Homo sapiens: one gene and its partner. The protein of the gene in region 2 interacts with the protein of the main gene of each other region in a biochemical or structural test. Each region holds a gene or a part of one and is shown on either strand. Other genes may lie near its edges.

Region 1 (3,821 bases), on a different chromosome or scaffold from region 2:
AAGATAGATAATTAGTACCTAGATACACAGACACATAGATAGCAGAATGAAAGTCATTAAGTGATTCTTAAGCCAAGCATTTGTTTAAAAGTGAGAGTTTGGGACCTGCTCAACTTTGTCATCTTCATATATGGTTTCCATTTTAATCGTTGTATTGAAATAAAATCAGCTGTAGACTGCCTGGAATTCTTTGTCAAAATGAAGTTTGCAAAAAGAGGCTAGAAGAAGATAGAAAAGATGTAAGAGAGAGAGCAAGTGATTTGGAGACACAAGATCAAGGAACCGATCTTGGGATAGAAAATACTCTTCTCCAGTTCCATCCATGCTCTCACTTATGAGTGGAAACTAAATAATTTGTAGACATGGACATGGAGAATGAAATAACAGACATTGAGGACTCAGAAAGGTGGGAAGGGGTTAAGGGATGAGAAAGTACCTAATAGGTACAAAGTACACTGTTCAGTTGATGGTTACGCTAACAGCCCAGACTAAACCATTATGCAATATATTCATGTAACAAAACTGCATTTGCACTCTCTAAATCTATAAAAATTAAAATAAAATTTTCTAACCTTGAAGAGAGTCTTTGTTACCCATCTTAAAAAGAATGAAGTCAGAGTAGAGACATGAAGTTGTCTTTTTTTTAAATAGTTTTTTTAACTCTATATTTTTATATAGTGTCTCCTAGGGAATCCCACAAATAGAAAGAGTGTTTATTCCTTTCTGAGGAGGAGAACAGACCTCCCAGAGTCCAAAGGGAAAGACAAGGACAGTCCCAGGAAGAGGAAGGGTCATGCACTAGCATCTCACGGCCGAGCCCTAGGAAGACGGAGGGGCAAGGTCCTGGGGTGGCTGTGGATAGAGTCAGGCTGGGTTATTTCAGGTCAGTCCTGCCTTGCTTGGCCCATGGGAAATGGGGTGTTGTTAGTATGAGTCAAGAGCTCAAATTGGTAACTGGCTGGTTTTGATTTAATTACATAGTGAGATAGTTTCCTAGGAGCATACAACACAATCCTTTCTCCTAAACGTGAGTTTAATTTTCAACAAAACACTTCTCTCATAAACATCACGTCATTTCTAAACCTTTATTGCCATTCCCAGAACTGCTTGCAGCCTTTCAGAAACCCATTATTTTATAATTATAATCAAGACTATTAGGACAGGACAATTTGTGCCAAAAAGCGCATTTACACTCAGAATTGTCACTTAGCACTGTCACAGGAGGGATCATCTTTATTTCTGTAGAAATCAAGGAGAGTTGCAGACTCTGCCTTTTAAACTTTTAATTTCTAGATGGCATGGGAGTTACTGACCTTGTCTAAATTATTCTCCATTCACTCCACTAACCACCCCTGGCAGAGTAGCCCAGGACATCACAGCAAGCAATTATGTTATGGAAAGAATGCAGCCCCAAGAATCAGGCCAACCCAAGTTCATATCCTGATTCTGCTCCTTCCTATTGAACAATTCAGTCCTTTCATCTGTTTCTTCATCTGTGGAATGGCAAAGCTACAAATACCTGCATCAGAAGGTCATTTTAACAATTAAATGAAATAATATACAACTAAAACGGTGCCAGACATGCACCAAAAGCTTAGCAACTTAAAAAAAATACAGAAGGTGCGGCAAATGTTATTGTGATTAATATAAGCTGTGTGACCTAAGGCAAGTTACTCGTCCTCTCTGGGCATCTCTTTTCTCATTTCTAAAATGAGAAGAGTAGCCTTTAACTCACAAGGTAGCAGTAACGATCAGATGATCACGCATGGTGCTCAATATAGTTGGTTCCTTTTGATCGACCATTTACTCCACAGATTTTACTTTGAGTTGAAAAGTTCGGTGATCTCCATAAGGGCAGCCAGAGTGTGTGATCTTATTCCAACCATCTGGAAAGTCCTAAGCTTTTGGAACTTCCCCCATAACCTCTGTGTTTAATCACAAGTCTGTGATGCCCGTCAGGAAGTCAGACCAACTGTAGACATGATAGAGCAACCCTAGGCATGTTGTTCAAAGAAAGGCCATCATCTAGTGGGCCTGATTTGTTCACTGTTAAAAAATCTTTGATCACATAACTTAGATCACATTTTTCCTGGCTCTTACAGCTGTAATATAAATAAAAACAAGTAATAATAATAATACTTCTCTTTGTTTAATATCAGTCAAAATTATAATGGTGAGATAGGAAGTTTTATGCATTTTGTGAGAGCAGGGTGCTCTTGCCATAGAACAGTATTTAGAAGCCCTGCTTCTGCGGTGAAGTGGACTTAGATCCTAATCTCAGTGCTGCCACCAATGAGCAGGTGACAGTGGACACATGACAGAATGACTCCCAGACTCAGACTCCTCATTTGTAAATTGGAAATACTTTCGTATCTTTCTAATTCATTGATGTGACAAACTGAGATAGCACAAATAAAGCCCTTGCATAAAACAATTGATCAATTAAATGTAACTATTGTAACTATCAACATTATCATTTTAACCAAGTGAGGTCTGCCAACAAGGTATTATTACCTCCATTTCATGAATTAAGACCTGAGCCTCAAAGCACTTGAATGACTTGCCCACAATCACACAAGTAAATGGAGACACTGGCTTAGACTTTGGTTTTCACTCTCCCAGGGAGTTCACTGTCACATATTGTGTGAGTTCATTTAAGCTTCTCCAGGAGCCTGCTGATGATTTCTAAAAAGTTTATAGAGTCCAGAAGAAGACTGGGGTCTGACAATCCCGTGAGTAGAGAATGAATCAGAAAGAAATGTCTAATTTTAGTTACAGTCACTTCTGTGGTTCCACAGGCTGGAAAAATAGCAATTACTTTAGTGTTGTTACTGAGAAGACCTCCCAGTGCTTCTCCTAGTGCCCTCTTAATAAAGTCTTAGGGGAGTACTCACCCATAAGGACAGTGTCCCCGTATTGAACATAATACATGATTTTCAATCCTTAGAGCAACCTTACAAAGTCATAGTTCTATTCTTATTTTACATTGGAGCTAAGTAGACTCTCAGAGAAATGGAGCCCAAGGCACACAGTTGATAAGGAGTGAATTTGAGTTTTGGCTTTCTCCAAAAGCCACGCTACTCAAAACACCAGAAAAATGGAAAGCACTGTATTAACGCTCATTCTCGGTGTCTTTCTCTCCTCTTTTTATTCTATGTCCAGATTTTCTACTTATTATTGATTAACCCTATTGTTCACATATCCTTTGTTTGAAGCTCCTTCAAGTCCTTTATGGAAAGATAGGGTTATAAATAAATCATTTGGTATGTATAACATATATGCATATGTATTGGCTTAATGATTCATGGCTTCAACTGAGAAACCCTTGCTAGTGTCAACCACACAGAAAACTGCAGGAGTTTCACTTCCTGTTTTGCCAACTTTAAGCATGAAGCAATTGGGTGTGGAAGAAAGAAAGTGTCCTTGAGTGACCTGGAGGCCCAGGCTCAGGTTTTGTCACTTTCCTACTCTGTGGGCTATTGAAAAATTTACTTCATTGAACTTCAGCTTTCCCATCAATAAAATGGAAAAAGTTAATTATGATTTGCTACCTTACTCAGCTAATGAGATATTCAAATATATAGTTTTGTGAATATGTTTCAAGTTGTAAGGTATCACACAAATTTAAGGCATTACAATTGGCATTAATTTATCCTTATTCCACCCTTTATCCCTCTTAAATCCAGAGGATTTAAAGAGCTAAAAAGAGGCTGGCTGAGGCCTGACTTTACTCTTTCTTCTCCTTCTGTTCTATGCATATAATTTCTTTCCCTGCTTGTCCACCTCACCTGCCATTTCTAGAATTTCCATCTGGGAGAGGG
Region 2 (3,821 bases):
CACAGGCATGAGCCATTATGCCCAGCCCTTTTTTTAAAAAAAAGTTATTTCTCTGTAGAAGCAACTAGAATTATTTTTCCTTGGGCACAAATATTCAGACTGTGGTGGTAAAATGCAGACAAACAGAAGCTTGTGTGAGGCACACACCCTCATTCTGCACTCCACAAACACTAAGAACCCCAAAATGTCCTGTCAAGACAGAACTCAAGGAGTGGACAGCAGAACAAGGCTCCAGGAGGGAATTTACCATGAAGCTAATAAGCCCCACACTTTCACGGGCCCATTCCAAGGCCTTGTACCTGATTGGGTATTCATGATTGCGTATTACTTTTCTTAAAAAAGAGCCCTGGAATTGTACAGACTTCAAGCACTGCCAAACTTGATCCATCCCTGCAGCCTTGTTTCCTTAGCAGCCATTTGAGCTCTAGCTCTTGGCAGCATTAGCTCAGAAATCAGAGACAGAGAGCCACCCCTGCTCACTGCACCCTGCCCCCCTCCACATCCCCCAACACAACCCCTTCCATGCATCATGCTCAACAAACCAATCTCAATCTCTCTCTCTCTCTTTCTGTTCCCTCCTGTCCCCAACACCCAAATACTAAAGTTCCTCCAAAAGGAATATCTATACACCATCAAATCCATTCTGAGACACAGACAGGGTCTTCAAGAGAGTTTGCTGACTTGGAGAACATCTCACAAATATAATCTGTTAACAAGGTGCCCTGGGATCGAGCTCTGGAATGCTGGGGCAGAGTCTACAGGCCTCCCAGGTGGGCTTATGTCTGGCAGATTCAAGGGTCAGATTCAAGTGTGATTCCTAAGGCCCCTGGGCTGTCTGTGCACACTTGAGCAGTGCAGATGCCAGTGCCCTCTGCACACACTATCCCCACCTCTGCATCCACAGCATACATCTCACATTCCAGTGATGGCTCTTACCAGTGATGTCATATCGGCTCTTGGGGTCACTGCTCTTGGGCACAGTGACCTCAGCTACCTCCTGTCCTGTCATGGGGCCATATCGCAGCTTGTAGTAGTCCACCTCAGTTGAGGGGTTTTCCCACTCCACGTCAAGGGAGTTCTCAGTCTCATCTGTCACCCAGGCAGTGCCAAGCACAGCAAGGTCTAGGGCAGGGGTGACGGAGGCAAGAGAAAGTGGTGAAGAGCAGAGGTTCCAAGGTTCTGTGACAGGCTGTTGGTTATCAGGTCAGCTCCCTTTCTTGACATCTCAAGAGCTGGCTTCAGCCCCAGGACACAGTTCTTAGCAGGTGTCTTTGAGCTACCAAAGTAGCAACTAAGCTGCTGGTTTTCACATATTCCATGGGCAGACTGTCTTTTGGGAAAGCCTCCACTTCCCCATCCCATCAGAGGCCATGTGGTCTTCCCTGTCCACACTGACTTTGGCCAAGCCCAAACTGTACCTCTCAGGTTGGCCACCCAAACCACTCAGTCCAGAGCTCTGACAGCTACAGCCCTGAACTAAAGGCCCACTCTTCAGCTGCAGAGCCCCTGCCCTCTAAGACGACCTCAGGATAAGCAGCTCAGGCACTTCCACGGAAAGTGGAGAGAATCTATTTCAAACTTTCTCAAGGACAACATTGGTAATCCAACAAGCTCCTTCCTCCATCTCCCAAATTGCAGCCCTTGCCTCTCAAATTCTCCTCTAAGGATGAACCCTAGGCAAAACTATAAAGTAGGTGAATTTTAACTTGGTCCATCTGAGTGTACTTCCTGCTATTTTTACCAATTTTAGCACTTCCATCTGGTACCTGGTATTCTCATGCTGCCCAATCTGTCTGTCCTGTGAAGGAAGAGAGTTATTGTATACATTTATTCATAGTAAAGTATTAACGGCTAAATGTTTACTCTTCTACTCAGAAAAAAAAAAAAACATGAAGTTACAGTGATTAATACAAAGGAATGGATCATTGCTACAGCTCTAAGGGGAGAACTTTTCTAGGGATGGGAGGACTAGGGTCTTTGAGAAGCACTTCAAATTCCAACAGCCATATCCCAGGCTGAGGGAGCCTGGCCTTCTAAGTTTTTGACAGGAAAGCCAAGGCCCTCCAATTCTCAGGCTTCCCCTCTTCATCAGTCACGCCCCCACCTTCACCTCCCTGGAGGTGTCTCCACCCAGGCCTACTGACCACTGACGGATGATGAAGGATCGAGAATTAGTGTCAGGCCAGGTGTGAACTCAGTGATCTCAAGGTCCCTGGGCTCTGAACGTCCCCGATTCAATCAGTTATGGATAAAGAGCCTCACAGAGCCTTTTCTCTGAAGCTTTTCCTCTCACCCACTGGCTTCCATCTGCCAGGTGCTGTTTTTAGACTCCCATTAAAGATGGAATTCCCTGAAGGCCAGGTCAAGAGGTGAGTAATAAATGTGACTTGAGGCTTATATAAGAGTTCCTACATGGTGTAAAAGAATTGGGAGGGAATCACAAATGAAAAAGCAAGGACTTAATGAGAATGTTCACGATTATGGTGGGGATGAGTACCTCTTGTCTTAGGCTCCCCTGAGGAGCAAATAAGAATGTGTTTAACCTGAATCAGATTAGAAAGAAAGAGAAACTTCACACTTGCAGAATTTTACAAATCCCGAGAGCAAGATGGATGAGGGGTTGCTAGGACTTTCAGAATAGGCATCTCTGTGCTGCACTGGGAGGCTTTGGACACAGTGCTAGCTGTACCAGAGGCAGCCACAGACAAAATGGGGAAAAAGAGAAAAGCAGACTCTGCCAGCCAGAATGGGCCTGGCTCCCACAGTGAGGACTTGGTGTCTCCTATTGAACATAAACCATTTCACAGGACATCAATGTCAGGTCACTCTGTGACCGCATAGATCAAGACAAAAACAAGACACTTCCATGATCAACTCTGAACACAGACAAAAACATGACCATTGTCCAAACCACACAAATAGCTGAACACCCACTCTCCTGACTACTATGAGTGATGGCCACTTCTGTTACAATCACCAACTTCAGCCTCTCAGAGGGGAGAGGCTCTCCCCACTTCTTGACAGCACCCAATCCCTGCTTCCTTACACCTTCCCCCAAATTACCTAACACAGGCCCAGATTCTCTAACCAGTCCTTTCTAACGCTGTCTTACTGAGATACCTCTATGGTCCCCCATAGTGTGCAGTCACCCATGCTAGAACAATCAAGACACCCAAGTTGTTCAACTACAGGGGTGCTCCTGGGGGTCTTTAGCTTGAGGGCACTGACAAAGGTAATCACATATGGTGACCTCATGATGGCCAAGTCTCTCACAGCCCTTTCCAACACTGACCCATCCCCACCTCCACCCTAGTCCCACCACCATAAAGGACAGGCAGCTTGATGTCTCTGCAAAGACAACTGCATGCCAAAGTTCCATCCATCTGTATCTTCCTAGATCTTTCCCTAGAAGTTTAGGGCAGGATGGAGGCAGTGCATTTTTAGCACCGAGAACAGTGCCTGACAAATGGTAAGTGCTCAATAAAAATGTACTGTGTGAAGGAATGAGTTAGTCATTCAACCAACTACGTTTCTCCAAATCCTTGAAGATCTAAGCTGCTTTAAGAATGTTCACGAGGAGACAAGAATGTTTAAAGAGTAAGCAGTGATGCTAATCCTTCTAAACATTTTGGTGGCATTTGCTGGTGCACAGGAGATTCTGTTTCTCCAGATCAAGCCTCCACCATCCTCCATCTTGTTCTGTACCCCAGGCTGTGATCTCTGTGAATTGAGTCTGCCTGTTTACCTGACCCTTTGGCTTCCAGGTTCAGCTAGCAGGAATCACCAGCAGATCAGAGGGCAGGAGACAGAATTCTTTGGAG

The links.
Region 1: the proteins of TNN (region 2) and TLR4 form a complex in vitro, tested with the Homo sapiens proteins (one study listed by IntAct).

The regions. Positions count from the first base shown.
Region 1 is NC_000009.12:117,717,825-117,721,645, reverse strand, and holds part of TLR4 (toll-like receptor 4 isoform A precursor), read right to left. Parts: 3' UTR 1-3,821.
Region 2 is NC_000001.11:175,081,051-175,084,871, reverse strand, and holds part of TNN (tenascin-N precursor), read right to left. Parts: intron 1,123-3,821; coding exon 937-1,122; intron 1-936. UniProt on the Homo sapiens protein: Extracellular matrix protein that seems to be a ligand for ITGA8:ITGB1, ITGAV:ITGB1 and ITGA4:ITGB1. Involved in neurite outgrowth and cell migration in hippocampal explants.